4 separate regions of the Homo sapiens genome follow, and all the other regions are reported to be linked to region 3. The links are microRNA targets in miRTarBase. Many come from high-throughput screens and were not tested one by one. Region 3 holds a microRNA gene; each other region holds the end of a gene's coding sequence.

What was found. Region 3 holds the annotated microRNA hsa-miR-664b-3p (UUCAUUUGCCUCCCAGCCUACA, at 2,056-2,077, shown strand). A microRNA usually pairs through its seed, bases 2 to 8, with sites in the 3' UTR of a target mRNA and lowers its output. Matches are read on the target gene's strand: a 7mer-m8 pairs with bases 2 to 8, a 7mer-A1 pairs with bases 2 to 7 and ends in A, and an 8mer does both.
Region 1: miRTarBase lists OLIG3 as a target of hsa-miR-664b-3p. Seed matches in the 3' UTR shown: 7mer-A1 at 1,237-1,243 and 7mer-A1 at 1,348-1,354.
Region 2: the mRNA of MED21 is a reported target of hsa-miR-664b-3p. Seed matches in the 3' UTR shown: 7mer-m8 at 1,815-1,821.
Region 4: miRTarBase lists PLEK as a target of hsa-miR-664b-3p. Seed matches in the 3' UTR shown: 7mer-A1 at 693-699 and 7mer-A1 at 979-985.

What each region holds. Positions count from the first base shown.
Region 1 is chr6:137,489,944-137,493,943 of GRCh38, reverse strand. It overlaps OLIG3 (oligodendrocyte transcription factor 3), which reads left to right. Exons shown (of 1, transcript NM_175747.2): 1 at 1-1,745. The coding sequence ends at 592. Among named protein-coding and RNA genes, the nearest start is that of OLIG3, 2.4 kb to the left of the region's middle. RefSeq lists an enhancer at 141-640.
Region 2 is chr12:27,028,069-27,032,068 of GRCh38, forward strand. MED21 (mediator complex subunit 21) reads left to right here. Exons shown (of 4, transcript NM_004264.5): 4 at 217-2,605. The coding sequence ends at 393. Among named protein-coding and RNA genes, the nearest start is that of MED21, 7.5 kb to the left of the region's middle.
Region 3 is chrX:154,766,580-154,770,728 of GRCh38, forward strand. MIR664B (microRNA 664b) reads left to right here and starts at 2,017; the gene lies at 2,017-2,077. DKC1 (dyskerin pseudouridine synthase 1) reads left to right here. Exons shown (of 15, transcript NM_001363.5): 6 at 418-482; 7 at 677-803; 8 at 1,723-1,853; 9 at 2,588-2,731. It overlaps SNORA36A (small nucleolar RNA, H/ACA box 36A), which reads left to right and starts at 1,949; the gene lies at 1,949-2,080.
Region 4 is chr2:68,395,411-68,399,410 of GRCh38, forward strand. It overlaps PLEK (pleckstrin), which reads left to right. Exons shown (of 9, transcript NM_002664.3): 9 at 270-2,043. The coding sequence ends at 406. Among named protein-coding and RNA genes, the nearest start is that of PLEK, 32 kb to the left of the region's middle.

The sequences.
Region 1 (4,000 bases), not on the chromosome of region 3:
GTCGGAGCAGGACCTACAGCAGTTGAGGCTGAAGATCAACGGACGCGAACGCAAGCGGATGCACGACCTGAACCTAGCCATGGACGGGCTGCGCGAAGTCATGCCCTACGCGCATGGGCCGTCGGTGCGCAAGCTCTCCAAGATCGCCACACTCCTGCTCGCCAGAAACTACATCCTCATGCTCACCAGCTCCCTGGAGGAGATGAAGAGGCTGGTTGGCGAGATCTATGGGGGCCACCACTCGGCCTTTCACTGCGGGACCGTGGGCCACTCGGCCGGCCACCCCGCGCACGCGGCCAACTCCGTGCACCCGGTGCACCCCATCTTGGGCGGCGCGCTCTCATCTGGCAACGCCTCGTCACCGCTGTCCGCCGCCTCACTTCCCGCCATCGGCACCATCCGGCCTCCCCACTCGCTACTCAAGGCGCCCTCCACGCCGCCCGCGCTGCAGCTGGGCAGCGGCTTCCAGCACTGGGCTGGTCTGCCCTGCCCCTGCACCATCTGCCAGATGCCGCCGCCGCCGCACCTGTCCGCTCTCTCCACAGCCAACATGGCCCGGCTGTCGGCCGAGTCCAAGGACTTGCTCAAGTGAGCAGCGGGCGGGCCCGGCTGCCAAGGAGGAGGGAGAGCGGCGGGAGGGGCCGCGGTGCCGGGCCGGGAGGGAAGAGGGAGGCTGCACGCTCGGCCCACGGGAGGGCAGGCTCCGGGGCCCGCAGCCTCCCACGCTGTCTGAGAGATCTCAGACTCCACTTGACCCCCGGAGGGAAAGGACCAAAATCAAACCGCAATTTCTAGGTGGTAGCAAAGGGGGACTCGAACCAGATGTCGTGTGTTTTGCATGCATGCTTCTTTTCCCCATGCCGCGCCAGTATTTTTCACTGCCATATGCTCTTGTCAAAACTGCATTTGTTGTATAAAGATGGGATCGGTGTAGTTAAAAACTTGCGAAGGGACTTTTGAGTTGGCTTTCTCTGACTCTGTGTTCTCGCTTTGGAAAAAGACGGCCATCCCTTTTGTGCAAAACAAATGTAAATATTTTCTTGAGATGGATGCGATTATGATTGTCTCTGTCCTTGCCACAGTTTTTCTAGAGACAATGGAGAGAGAAAGAGAGAGAGAGCGCGAGAGAGATCAAGACCCAAGTTTTGAATCTCAACCGAGGTCCAGGGCATGACACCTCCTATGTGGGTTTTCCTTTCGACGCAGTGTAGGTCAAAAGAATGCATGCACGCTTCTAAATGAATCTTGTCTGAATATGTCGTGCAGGCTGTGGTGCCGTTTTCCTTGTAACAAGGATTTATTAGTGAATTATCCCAAGTACTCCATATATCTGTCTGTGGTTGTATGAAATGAAAAAAGGGGCAGAGTGCAAAGACCCACACTCACGCACACGCGCTTCTTCTCCCACCCCCACCCCCTTCAAACTTTATTCGGAACCTTCCTTTGCTGTTCTGGGGCCGCTATTGTAAAAGCCTGGGCTCCCTCTAGTAGCTTGCGCCACCCCCCCTCGCTCAGTTATTCTGCATGCGGGGTTGGCTCTCTCTATTATCAGCTTTGAAAACTTATCCTGGTTTTGGGAGGGGTGCCGTTTTTATTTTCCTGAACATTTGCTTGAAATATTTTGTTAGGGCCTCAAAGACGATACCTGTCTTTATTTTTTATATATTCTTGATAACTATGATATATTTATTAATAACCAGTGTTTCTGGATGAGATTTCAAATAAAAAAGAACCTTTAAATCGTGGCTTTGCCTTTGCCTAAAATCTTAGCAGATGGGGGTAGTGGGATAGGAAACACGTGGACCAGGTAAGGTGTATCTGGGTGAGGAATTTGGATGGGTGGGCAGATGTGAAGGTTTTCCGTGATTACGTACAAGTAAACAGGATGGGTAAATTGGTGCTGATTTTTGGAACTAAATGTCCTTCAAGCGGGCATTGCCCACATTCATAGTATTATGCTATTTGAGCTCATTTCTCTGCAGTAATCAGACCCTCATAAACTCGAGAATTGAATTTTAAAAAGTAATCTGGAAACTTAAAGTGGCAGGAAATGAGAGGTGGAGTGTCACTACGATGACTGTGTTGGCAACAAACAAGGATGAAGCAGTACGTTAACTTCTTTTCACTTTAAATTGAACTTGTGCTTTTCCCCCCATGTTAAAATCTAGTATACATTTTAAAAGTCAACAAAGAGTGGTCTTAGAAAATAGTCAAATACTCACCCTGCTTGCCTGCACCCTCGGAAGCATGGCCTACAGAGAAAGGGAAGGCTTCTCTGCTTTGTAAGGTGAGCTCCGGGTGAGTCAAACCACCACCCAAGTCTCAGAATCTTGCAGATTTATAGCGAGAATCCTCCCTTCTTTCTTCCCTTAGAAGATTGCTGGTCTGATTAGCTATATACATTGGGCATCTTCTACAAAAAAGTCAGCTAAAACGGGAGTCATTTTAATAAACTACTTTTCTCTTTTCACCTCCCGCCATAACACTTCTAAATGGTTTGTCTAAGCAGGAGTAATCCAGCAAGACAGTTTTGTCTATTTGTTTAAAGGGGACAATAAATCGAGCTGTAGTGAGGATAGCCCCAACAACACAAGCCTCCATTTCCCTCTGAAGAAAATAGAACCCTGATTGAAATGCAACACCCCAGGATTTGCTTCTGAATAAGTTGTAACATCACCTAGATGTTGGTTGAGGCCAAAGCTCCTCTCCAATGGGGGGAGGCTTGTGGTCTCTTTCTAGAATCCAGCAAGGAGAGCACGTCTAGGAAGCATTTGCGTTTGCCCTGTCTTTCCTGGGTCCCTGATGCCTACCCAGTACTGCCTCTGTCAGGCAGAGCATCTCTGTGGGTTTCTCTTCTATGCAAATCATCCCCCTCCATCCCTTTTTACCCTCCCATCGCTACCCCACTCTCAGCCAGGCGAAAGACCTAAGTTAGCATCTACAGTGGAGGGTACTTGTTTCCACTGGTTTTAGGCAGACAAATGGGGGAATAATCGTCTGTTTCCCAGGGGTGATTCATTTCTCTGGGTGAGGAAAGAGCCTATTGAAGATTTATTTGAAACCAACACAAGGCAGCCCTCCAGTCTTTCCCCAGAGTTTATTATTTAGAAAGGGGAGGGGTGGGAGAAGTTTCATCAATCAGGAAAACGACTTTCTCCTTAGCCACTTGCTTCTTTTGAGTCCTGTTTCCAAAGGCCTGGTTCTGGGGAAAGACTCAGTGCCTTACAGTTGGCCTAGTGGTGGGCCTCATGCCTTCTCTAAAACTGAGTCTTAAATTGGGTTATGCAAAGGAATAAAGCCACATTCTTTACACTAGGACAGTCGTGGATTTTGTGATTGTGCTGCTGAGACAGGAAATCCTTGATTTACAGCAGTGGTCAGTTTAAAGAGCTGTGATGTCCACTCACATAAGCTGAAAGGAAGCTTGAGCACAGGGAACTCTATTGCAAATTTTGCAACTAAAATGGGAAATAGACACCACTTCCAATATCGAGAAGATCTCTTAAGTGAGCAGAGCTCTTTTCTGGGATACAAAAATTCTTTTGGCTTCGAGACCAGAAGAGAGGATTTCTTTAAGTACAGGACAGGAACCCAGTGAGGAAGGTGATTTGAGAGCCACGTCATCTGAGGTTTCTGGATTTATTGGGAAGAAATAATCTCCATTCGCTCTCCGGGAAGGCCCTTCCCTTGATGCCTAGGCGGGTCTGCTGGGCATGTGAGTTTGCAGGCAGACTTTTACTGTCATTGCACTTCCCTTTAAATACTCGAATTATCGACGCCAGAAAAAAGATTTCATGACCGCAAAGGTGAAAATGGGTTTCGGCCGGGATTTTTTTTCGTTGTAAACTTGTCACTTTCTCGAAATTTTGCAAGTTTAGTTTTTCATTCAATCTGGAAACACCACGACGATCCTTTCATTCCAGATTAAACCCCGCCTTACGTTTAAATGGATGGCGAAATCCTCCTGGGCGGAGACACCTTGAGAAGCCCACACTAGAAA
Region 2 (4,000 bases), not on the chromosome of region 3:
GAGTCACTTAAAGATATCTAGAGATCTCTAATTGAAAAGTCATTCTTTTTAATAATTCACATGGGGAAAATTCTTAAAAGTTGTCTGATTTTTAGAATTTCTTTACTGAAAAACATATCACAATGATTGCAAAGTCATCCAGATTTAAAAATAAGTACATCTGTGACAGCTTCTCTTTCTAAACTCTAAAGATTTTAAAATTTGTGTCTTATAAAGGCTGCTAGCTTGTATAAGCTAGAAGAAGAAAACCATGAAGCTGCTACATGTCTGGAGGATGTTGTTTATCGAGGAGACATGCTTCTGGAGAAGATACAAAGCGCACTTGCTGATATTGCACAGTCACAGCTGAAGACAAGAAGTGGTACCCATAGCCAGTCTCTTCCAGACTCATAGCATCAGTGGATACCATGTGGCTGAGAAAAGAACTGTTTGAGTGCCATTAAGAATTCTGCATCAGACTTAGATACAAGCCTTACCAACAATTACAGAAACATTAAACACTATGACACATTACCTTTTTAGCTATTTTTAATAGTCTTCTATTTTCACTCTTGATAAGCTTATAAAATCATGATTGAATCAGCTTTAAAGCATCATACCATCATTTTTTAACTGAGTGAAATTATTAAGGCATGTAATACATTAATGAACATAATATAAGGAAACATATGTAAAATTCTGTTATGACATAATTTATGTCTCCATTTTGTTGTATTGGCCAGTACTTTTACAAATCAAAACATCTCTCAAGCCAAAGGAGAAGACAGTAAGAACAGACATAAGGGACATTTTAGTTTGGGCTAGTGTCCTGCCTCTTAGAGGTGGCATTGTGTAAATCTGAGCTTTGAGCAAGAAAGTTTTGGAAATTGTGTTGCTTTTAAGAAATAGAGTTAGTGTGGCTGGATAAGAAAGTCACATTTATGCAAATGTTTCTTCTGCTAGAACCTCATACCTGTTCTAGTTCATCTCCACGTTTATTTTACCAAGAGATCCTCTGTCAAGAGAATTTCCTGGCTGTTGTGAAAGAATTTTTCTACATCCTGAACTATTTTTCCTATTTCTTTTCACCTTGCTTTTTTTCATCCTTAATTTGCTTGTCATCACAATGAAGTATGTTTTTTGAATCATCAATTCTTTCTCATTCTCCATTTATCTGAAGGTTCTTTTGCCCTTATTAACCTCTCAACTTTTATTGCTGTATTCTAGTCAGACCAGAACATACTTCCACTACATCAGTTACTTGGCATCATTTCACCTCAGTTTATTATTGCCAAATAATAATTTGTGTCAGCATTTTCAACTATGGTTATTCATCCAACCCTTGGATCTCTTTGAGTCTACTGATAATCTCCACTGGAAAGGTGGAATTGAAATGTGGTCCACATTTTAACTAGCTATTTCCTGGGGCTGTATTTTTCAGAATATGCTGAGCTACATTTGCTGCAATCTGTTGCTATTCAGAGTTTAAGTTTCAGGAGAAAACAGGAACAATAGAACACTCTGCCTGTTATTTTTGTTGTAATCAAGCTTTTCCACAGTTCTTGAAAAGTACTATGTTTCAAATTTCAGGAACACCAGCGTTAGCTGTAAAAGTTGCAGCAATTTATTGGCTAGTCATAGAAAATTTTTGAACTTTTAACTGTATTTTAATTGATGTTTATTAAAAACACTTTGCTATCAGATATTTGGCATAAATCTGTACTCTTCATTATAGTTTTGGGGGGAGAGAAGATTCAGTCAGAAAACTTATTCAAAGTACCTAAGTATTATAAAGGAGTCAAAAAGGTACAAAGAGAAAAGGTCAAGACATTTTTCAAATGAGGGAAAACTAACAGGATTTATCACTAGTAAACCTGCTCTAAAAGAATTCAAGGGAAGCTTTTTAAAAAGAAGGGAAGTTATAGCAGAAGGAAACTTAGAATGGCAGGAATAAAGAAGGCATAATGTATAGGGTAAATATAATAGACTTCTCTTGAGGTTTTAAAAATTACATTTGTTATTTGAAAGAAAAAAATTAACGTTGTTGTATGTGATTCTCTGTAGAGGATATACAGTTTTTTTTTGTTGTTCTTGTTTCTGTTTTTTTAAGGTGAAGTCTCTGTCACCCAAGCTGAAGTGCAGTTCTGTGATCATGGCTCACTGCAGCTTCACCCTGGGTTCAGGTGATCCTCCCACTTCAGCCTCTTCAGTAACTGGGACTACAGGCATGTACTACCACGTCCAGCTAATTTTTTTTTTCTTTTTTTTTTAGAGATGGGGTCTCACTCTGTTGCCCAGGCTAATGCCAAACTGCTAACCTCAAGATATTAATACTATACAGTAGACTATAAGAAATTAAGTATTTGTATCATCCCTAGAGCGACACAGATTTTTCCCTAAAAAACTACAGATTATTTTCAAAAGCATTAATAAATTAAGGTGGAATACTAAAAAAGATTCAGGTAACCCAGGAACGAGAAACAGAATAAAACAATAGTAAACCTAAATTTTATTTTATTTCATTAATACAGCAATAATTAAATGTCAATGATCTAAGCTGATTTAAATCTAAAAACTGGATAAGAAGCTGTGGCTTGTAATTAAAAATAGACCTTTATTCACTAGACCTACAGTTTGCTTTTTTCATATGTTAAGAAAAGTTTAATATCCTGCTTCTCTATTTCAGTTCTAGGGGCACCACTATCAGTTAACCCTAAAGATTTCTGTGGGTGAAACCATTTTGATTACCATCTTGCTCTGCTGCCAGTTATGGTAACCAAACTCTCTTTGTTTCTGGATGCTAAATCTGTCCACTTGTGCCTTAACTACATCCTAACTCCCGTCATCTTCATTGAATTTAAGGAGCCAATTTCTTTTTTTGAGATGGAGTTTCACTCTTGTCCAGGCTGGAGTGCAATGGCACGATCTTGGCTCACCGCAACCTCAGCTTCTCGGGCTTAAGTGATTCTCCTGCCTCAGCCTCCCGAATAGCTGGGATTACAGGCAGGCACCACCATGCCTGGCTAATTTTGTATTTTTAGTAGAGACGGGGTTTCTCCATGTTGGTCAGGCTGGTCTCGAACTCCCAACCTTAGGTGATCCACCCGCCTCAGCCTCCCAAAGTGCTGGGATTACAGGCATGAGCCACTGCACCCGGCCAGGAGCCAATTTCAATGGGAGTATCCTTTACTATCATTCCTGACCTGTGATATTGGCCATTAGAGCCTTTCAAGAATGGTACCTCCTGCCGATGATTTTTTTTAAAGCCTTAATGAAGAGAGTGTCCTCTGGATCCTTCCAGAGAAGATAGGATGTGAGTGAGTAAGTTATGTATAATAATTTCACCCCAAAATTTCTATGTCCTTGATACCATTCCCTGTATACCAAGGAAGGGTATTCTGGCATTTCACTTTGATTTAATATAAGTAAACCCTGTGTCTGGGCATTAGTTAACAAACCAAGTGACTACAAGTGATAAGTAACTTTTACCATAGACTGTCAATTACCTTGGCAATGGAAACATTATTGCTTTTTAATCCAGTCAGATCAGAGAACAAATTCCAGATTTCCATCCTTAAGATTCTGTGTCTCTGCTACCACTTCTGGTAGCAAAACATGTCAGTGTGAGGTAGAGTCAATGGAATGTAGCCATGAAAAAAAAAATGCTACTACAAACATTACAGGAATAAGGAATTTGATCGAAGAATTAGCATTTACACAAAATATGGGAGGAGTTAGGGAAGTGAAAGAATGAAAGGAGAAAGAGGATAAAGAAAACACTAACCACATCACCCTAAAGCCCTTATTGCTAAATGAGGTTATTGTAGTGCCAGTTAAGTCCAGGTCAGCCAAGGCGTGCGTACCCCTTGGCCCCACTTGGAAAGCTGTGTGGATATGACTGTTGGATTAGGGGGTTCTCAAAGCCAAAATGGATTTATCAGCAATGACCTTACTGCCTGGTACCCAGCTTTGAGAGGACCAAAAACGACGGATGTGTCTTGCATTCCCTGGTCCCTCTTTC
Region 3 (4,149 bases):
TTGGAATTCCACATACTAAGCATGTATTCATCAAGCTGACTGGATCCATTTGTCCGGGTTCAGCTCTCAGCTTGTCACTCCAGGCTTCTCACTCTGTGCTACCGCTTCTGCCTAAAGTATCCTTCGTTCATTTTTATCTGAGAAAAGCCTGCTTATCTTGCAAGGCTTTTTCCACGCAGCTTCTACACTGAGTACTCCCAACTGTCCCTGTTAGTACATTGAATTCCCAGTGAGAAAGTGTCTTCATTCTTTCCCACATCATCACCATGAAATCTCTCTTAATGCAAATTTTATAGAAACACAAGGTCAAACTGCCGCTTTTCCTGCTGTGCAAAATGGGAGTGACTGAGCATATAAGAAATATGGAAAACAGAAAACTCAGTGGCCACACCTGACTACTCTTTTGTCATTTTTCAGGCAAAGAGTATGTGGGGATTGTCCGGCTGCACAATGCTATTGAAGGGGGGACCCAGCTTTCTAGGGTAAGTCTGCAATTGTAGGGAGGACACCCTTTGTTGACTTGGATCTCTGAGCCCCTAAACATCTGGAGATGGGTTAGCTGTCCTGACTGACTCCTTTTGTCCCCTTTTCAGTCGGCTGCTGCAGCCAGCCTGGACCAGTGACTGCACATGTACATTCTGATGAGGTGTTTGTTTTCATTTGTGTTTGTTCTTAGGCCCTAGAAACTCTGACAGGTGCCTTATTCCAGCGACCCCCACTTATTGCTGCAGTAAAGAGGCAGCTCCGAGTGAGGACCATCTACGAGAGCAAAATGATTGAATACGATCCTGAAAGAAGATTAGGTGAGTCATTAGGCCTGTGAGTGGGTATGAACACATTCTTCAGGATTCTGTTCTCTTATTAAAAGTAGATGCCCTTGAAGTTGAAGACTTTCTAAAACCTGCCCTACAGCTGGGATATTGTCTGTGGGCGATAGTTTTTGTTATCTTTTGTTGAAAAAGTGAACAGTGCCTAGTAAAGTGAGATGGCTTTTACACCTTTTATGATGACTGCTTCTGCTGGAGTTGAAATGTTTTCATTCTGCATTTGTGTAGTTCGGTGCTTTGTTCAAAGGTAAGTGTTTTCACCAAAGTATGTTTTGCATGTGTTTTTTATTTGTTGCAATTTTGACTGCTTAGAAGTTTCTGTTGTCAGAAGTAAATTTAAGACAATGCCAATTTTCCTCCCATCCATGAAACATACCATGCTGAATATACCTGCAACTTAAGTGTTAAAAATTCTGCTAATATCAGAATTACAGATCTTTTTTTTTTTTTTTTTTTTTTTTTGAGACGGAGTCTCGCTCTGTCGCCCAGGCTGGAGTGCGGTGGCATGATCTCGGCTCACTGCAAACTCTGTCTCCCGGGTTCACACCATTTTCCTGCCTCAGCCTCCCAAGTAGCTGGGACTATAGGCGCCCGCCATCATGCCCGGCTAATTTTTTGTACATTTAGTAGAGACGGGGTTTCACCATGTTAGCCAGGATGGTCTTGATCTCCTGACGTCGTGATCCACCCGCCTCTGCCTCCCAAAGTGCTGGAATTACAGGCGTGAGCCACCGTGCCTGGCCAGAATTACAGATCTTTACAGCAAATGCTTATATTTTAAGAAGTGTGTCTGTCACCTCTAGTCTTGGTGGCTCAGATGAAGGATAACTGCATTTCTCAACCAGTGATGTATTTACAGTAGGTGCTGCTTTTCTTTTGTGTGTGTGTATCTTAGGAATCTTTTGGGTGAGTTGTGAGGCTGGCACCTACATTCGGACATTATGTGTGCACCTTGGTTTGTTATTGGGAGTTGGTGGTCAGATGCAGGAGCTTCGGAGGGTTCGTTCTGGAGTCATGAGTGAAAAGGTATGTGTTACGGGGCTAGAAGTTTTAGAGCTGGTTCTTACCATCTGCCAGCCTTTGATGGCACTCCACTTGCTTCATGTCGTGGGAAAGATGCTTTCCAAAGTGTTGAGTTCAGTCCAGGGCAGCTTCCCTGTTCTGTTAATTAAACTTTGGGACATTAAAATGGGCTAAGGGAGATGATTGGGTAGAAAGTATTATTCTATTCATTTGCCTCCCAGCCTACAAAAATGCCTGCTTGGGGTCTAATACTTCAACGGTTAAAGATGCCTGGAAGAGGGCGCGGTGGCTCACGCCTGTAATCCCAGCACTTTGGGAGGCCGAGGCGGGTGGATCATGAGGTCAGGAGATCGAGACCATCCTGGCTAACAAGGTGAAACCCCGTCTCTACTAAAAATACAAAAAAAATTAGCCGGGCGCGGTGGCGGGCGCCTGTAGTCCCAGCTACTCGGGAGGCTGAGGCAGGAGAATGGCGTGAACCCGGGAAGCGGAGCTTGCAGTGAGCCGAGATTGCGCCACTGCAGTCCGCAGTCCCACCTGGGCGACAGAGCGAGACTCCGTCTCAAAAAAAAAAAAAAAAAAAAAAAAAAGATGCCTGGAAGAGCCAGGACTGAAGAGGCTGAAGACATAATGAGCTTGGACTAGTAAACAAGTGACATTCAGTTTTAGGAAGTTTGGGGTCTGATGGGCTGAGATACAAATAAACTGAATTATTTTCATACATGGCTGCTTTTCAGGACCACATGGTGACAATGCATGATGTGCTTGATGCTCAGTGGCTGTATGATAACCACAAGGATGAGAGTTACCTGCGGCGAGTTGTTTACCCTTTGGAAAAGCTGTTGACATCTCATAAACGGCTGGTTATGAAAGACAGTGCAGTAAGTTCCGGGTTAGGAGTTTATATTTGGAAAGAACGTACTCCAAAGATGAGGCTTGCTCTTTTTATTGTTTTCCTTGGGTTTTATTTTATTTTTTTCAAGTCCAAACCAAGTATATTAATTTAAAGTAAAAGTTTAATGGTAGGCATACTTAAAAATAAGGCACATTAGGCCAGGCACAGTGGCTGATGCCTATAATCCTAGCACTTTGGCAGGCTGAGGCAAGAGGATCACTTGAGTCCAGGAAGGAGTTTGAGACCAGCTTGAGCCCAGGAGATCAAGGCTGTGAGCTGTGTTTTTATGATGATCAGAGAGTTGGCCTTTTATAAATTAAAACATTGTCTTTTTCTCTAACTTGAGGGATAAAAATTTCTGGATATTTAAAATGTTTGTAGTTGGTAATTATTTATATTCAAATCTTGTATAGATGTTCACATTTTTTGTATGTGTATAGGCTGTAATAAATACTGAAAGATGGCACCATAATAGTTGAAAAAACTCAGTCACAAAACAGTGGACAACATAAATGTGATGTCCTCTCCTTATCAAACCATTGGCTTCTGGGTGAATGTAAAGGGAGGGGAGAATGTGATCAAAAGAGGTCTAGGTGAGTGGAGATGGTATGAGGCAGATGGGTGCATTGGGTACCATTGAACCTCTGGAGAGGTAGCCTTAACTTGTACCCACTGACCTATAAATTCTGCACCAAGACTTTTGTGTGATTGGTTCAACAGGGCTCAGTAATCTTGTTTTCAAGTTCTTTAAGAGCCTGTTATTGCCTGGATCTCCAGTAAATCTGTTCTTTCTCCTCATAAGGAGGAGAGAGGAGTAATTAAGGAATGCCAAGGCTATTTTTATGTTTCAAATGAAAATATGGACCACGTGCGGTGGCTCACACCCATAATCCCAGCACTTTGGGAGGCCGGGCCAGGCAAATTGCTTGAGCTCAGGAGTTTGAGACCAGCCTGGGCAATATGGTGAAACCCTGTCTCTATTAAAAATACAAAAATTAGCTGGGCGTGGTGGCACGTGCCTGTAATCCCAGCTCCTTGGGAGGCTGAGAATCACTTGAACTTGGGAGATGGAGGTTGCAGTGAGCCGAGAATGTGCCACTGCACTCCACCCTGGACAACAGAGGGAGGTTCTGCCTGAAAATTAAAAAAAAAAAAAAAAAAAAAAGAAAATACTTGTGAGTCTCTAGAACCTGAAAACCTGAAAGTCTTCTTTACTACTTTTGAGTCGTGTGTAATGTGCGGAGAGTGGTACCTATAGCACAGTGAGGTGGCTCTTCTGAGTACCACTCATGCCCCTTGCAGCTAGTGGGCTATAAGTGTCATCCCTGTTTCCTGGTGTCAGGCCCCACTCCCTTGTTGTCCTCCTTTACTCTGGTGTGGGAGTGGGGTGGAGGGCAGCAGCTG
Region 4 (4,000 bases), not on the chromosome of region 3:
AAGAAAATGTTTCTCCTTAAGTGTTTTACCTATTTCTTAAAAATATATATATACACACAGTCATACTATGTATCTACTCTATCAATACTATGTATATAACTGTGCAATGAATTATCCTATAATCATACCTTGTTTGTATGTTTGAAAGCCACATAGTCAATTTCCTTAGAACACGAAGAAAACAGAGATTTCATGGCTTGCAGAGGAGGGTGGAGCAAGTGGTCTTTCTGATGCCTGTGCGTGCTGCCATTTGCCTTCTCTTTCCCCAGGCAGGAAGAGTGAGGAAGAGAACCTTTTTGAGATCATCACAGCAGATGAAGTGCACTATTTCTTGCAAGCAGCCACCCCCAAGGAGCGCACAGAGTGGATCAGAGCCATCCAGATGGCCTCCCGAACTGGGAAGTAAAGAGACTCCTGCATTCCTCCTCCCCTCCTGAGGGAAGCCCATGGACAAGCTCAGTCCAGGACCTGTCCACTTCTGTGACAAATCAACGGGAAACAGCCCAGGGGTGGGAAGTTTTCATTTGCAGGGGGGTCTGAATGTAACTCACCATGTGGTGTGCAAGGTTCCCCTGCATTGTATTGCTCACTGCAGCCCCTCTGCCCCTATCCATGACCCCCAAGCAGATATAACAAGCTGTGCAGCCTCAGTAGGCTGCTTGCCCTCTCCAGGCCTCAGGGCCTCTTCTGGAAAATGAAGAAATTCAACTAGTAGATTCCTGAGGTCCCCCTAGCTTAAAAAAAAAAAAAATCTGCCCCATGATTCTAACACTCGCAGTAGTGATAGTGTATCTAGTTGTTCTGCTGGTGTCCTTCCTTGGCTAAGTCTTGGCCTTCAGTTATCTTCAAATGTACCAGAACCTGAGCCAACGCCTCCCTGTGAAACTGTTGCTGATCTGTAGTACAGTACCAGGAAGAAACCTCTTTTGTTCTCTTTAGACATCTTCTACTTGCTCTTGGCCTTGAGATCGTGTAACAAAATGAAGGAGGGCTCTCTTCTTTCTTCCTCATCCTACTCAAAAACTTCCCGAGAGCAGTGGTGGTTTTGAGGGTTTTGACTTCTATTACTTTTGGCAGCCTGGAAAGTTGTGTCTTCTGGGAAAGAGACCTGGGGAGGCCAGGAGTAGCTGAGGGTCCTTTCTGTGCCCTTAAACCGCCCAGAGGAGCCCTATTCCACTCTGGTTTTAGGCTGATCTGAGAGGGTCTCCCTTTGTTCCTTTCTGGAGCATTTCTCTAACGTTTATTACAATTAGGAGGGGGACCCCACATCTGTGAGATTCTGTTTCATTTGAGGTTTACAGAAAAAAAAAAGTGGCCAGATGTGTTCCCCCCATGGGTGAGAGGCCTGGGCAACTGCCTGGTGAATGTGTCTTGCGGCAGCTGCAGCAAGTGGAGGGGCTGAACTACTGGCCAGCTCACTGGATGATGGGTTAATACAACAACTGCACTGTAAGGACTCAGAGCCACACAGAACTTCTGAGAGGGGCTGTTAGCATTGCGCAGCATCTTCAGTTCTCCAGTAAATGATATTGCGTTCGTGCCTCAGCTTTAAGCACAAGTAGCAGCAGCTCCTGCTTGAGTTCTGAGGGCATCATGGCCCTATGATTAACCAGAGTGATCTAACCTAGACTAAAATTGGGAACTTATTTGCAATTTTTGACCCTGACCACTAACTAGTGATTCTTCTCCAAAATTGAGAAAGACAGCACCCATTGAAGCAGATATGTGTGTGAAAGTATATTTTTCAATTCCAGATTTTTAATTTTAAGGCTCCAGGAAAGAAAGGAGAGTAGAACATTTTTCCTCATTTTATCAAATCCTCTCTTGCCCTCCCTCAATTCCCCTGTAACATTCCTGAAGCTGTTCCCACTCCCAGATGGTTTTATCAATAGCCTAGAGGTAAAGAACTGTCTTTTTCTCTGATTCTTTAATAAATTATCTTTATAGAATATGCACAAGTTTTTCTACACTCAGTGTTAAAGTATTTATTAATGGGAAGTCAACTTAATGTTTTGAAATAAATATATGACTCTGTTTAATGCATTTTTGGTGTGATGACTCTGTTTTGCCTCCTATTGATAACTCTCCCCTCTGGCCGGGCACGGTGGCTCATGCCTGTAATCCCAATATTTGAGAGGCCAAGGCGGGTGGATCACTTGAGGTCAGGAGTTCGAGATCAGCCTGGCCAACATGGTGAAACACTGTCTCTACTAAAAAAAAACAAAACAAACAAACAAACAAATAACTCTCCTTTCTTACAACTCAGTTTTATTTACTAAGGGTAACACTATCTTTTATTTTTCATCATCTCAATAGCTTTATGATTTTTAAAATTTATTTTATGTTAAGTTCTGGGGTACATGTGCACAACATGCAGGTTTGTTACATAGGTACACATGTGAATTGTTGGTTTGCTGCACCCATCAACTTGTCATTTACATTAGGTATTTCTCCTGATGCTATCCCTCCCCCAGTCCGCCACCCCCTAACAGGCTCCAGTGTGTGATTTTCTCCTCCCCGTGTCCATGTGTTCTCATTGTTTAACTCCCACTTATGAGTGAGAACATGAGGCGTTTGGTTTTCTCTTCTTGTGTTAGTTTGCTGAGAATGATGGTTTGCAGCTTAATCCATGTTCCTGCAAAGGACATGAACTCATCCTTTTTTATGGCTGCATAGTATTCTATGGTGTATATGTGCCACATTTTCTTTATCCAGTCTATCATTGATGGGGATTTGGGTTGGTTCCAACACTTTGCTATTGTGAAGAGTGCTGCAATAAACATATGTGTGCATGTGTCTTTATAGTAGAATTATTTATAATTCCTTGGGTATATACCCAGTCATAAGATTGCTTTGTCAAATGGTATTTCTAGTTCTACATCCATGAGGAATCACCACACTGTCTTCCACAGTGGTTGAACTAATTTATACTCCCACCAACAGTGTAAAAGCATTCCTATTTCTCCACATCCTCTCCAGCATCTGTTGTTTCCTGACTTTTTAATGATCAACATTCTAACTGGGGTGAGATGGTATCACATTGTGGTTTTGATTTGTGTTTCTCTAATAACCAGTGATGATGCGCATTTTTTCATAAGTTTGTTGGCTGCATAAATGTCTTCTTTTGAGAAGTGTCTGTTCATGTCCTTCACCCATTTTTTGATGGGGTTGTTGTTTTTTTTCTTGTAAATTTGTTTACGTTCTTTGTAGATTTTGGATATTAGCCCTTTGTCAGATAGATAGATTGCAAAAATTTTCTCCCCATCTGTAGGTTGCCTGTTCACTCTGATGATAGTTTCTTTTGCTGTGCAGAAGCTCCTTAGTTTAATTAGATCCCATTTGTCTATTTTGGCTTCTGTTGCCATTGCTTTTGGTGTTTTAGTCATGAAGTCTTAGCCCATGCCTATGTCCTGAATGGTATTGCCTAGGTTTTCTTCTAGGGTTTCTATGGTTTTATGTCTTATGTTTAAGTGTTTAATCCATCTTGAGTTAATTTTTGTATAAGATGTAAGGAAGGGATCCAGTTTCAGCTTTTTGCCTATGGCTAGTCAGTTTGCCCAGCACCATTTATAAAATAGGGAATCCTTTTCCCATTGCTTGTTTTTGTCAGGTTTGTCAAAGATCAGATGGTTGTAGATGTGTGGCATTATTTCTGAGGCCTCTATTCTGTTCCGTTGGTCTATATATCTGCTTCAGTAACAGTACCATGCTGTTTTGGTTACTGTAGCCTTGTAGCACAGTTTGAAGTCAGGTAGTGTGATGCCTCCAGCTTTGTTCTTTTTGCTTAGGATTGTCTTGGCTATGCAGGCTCTTTTTTGGTTCCATATGAAATTTAAAGTAGTTTTTCCAATTCTGTGAAGAAAGTCGGTGGTAGCTTGATGGGGATAGCATTGAATCTATAAATTACTTTGGGCAGTATGGCCATTTTCATGATATCAATTCTTCCTATCCATGAGCATGGAATGTTCTTCCATTTGTTTGTGTCCTCTGTTATTTCCTT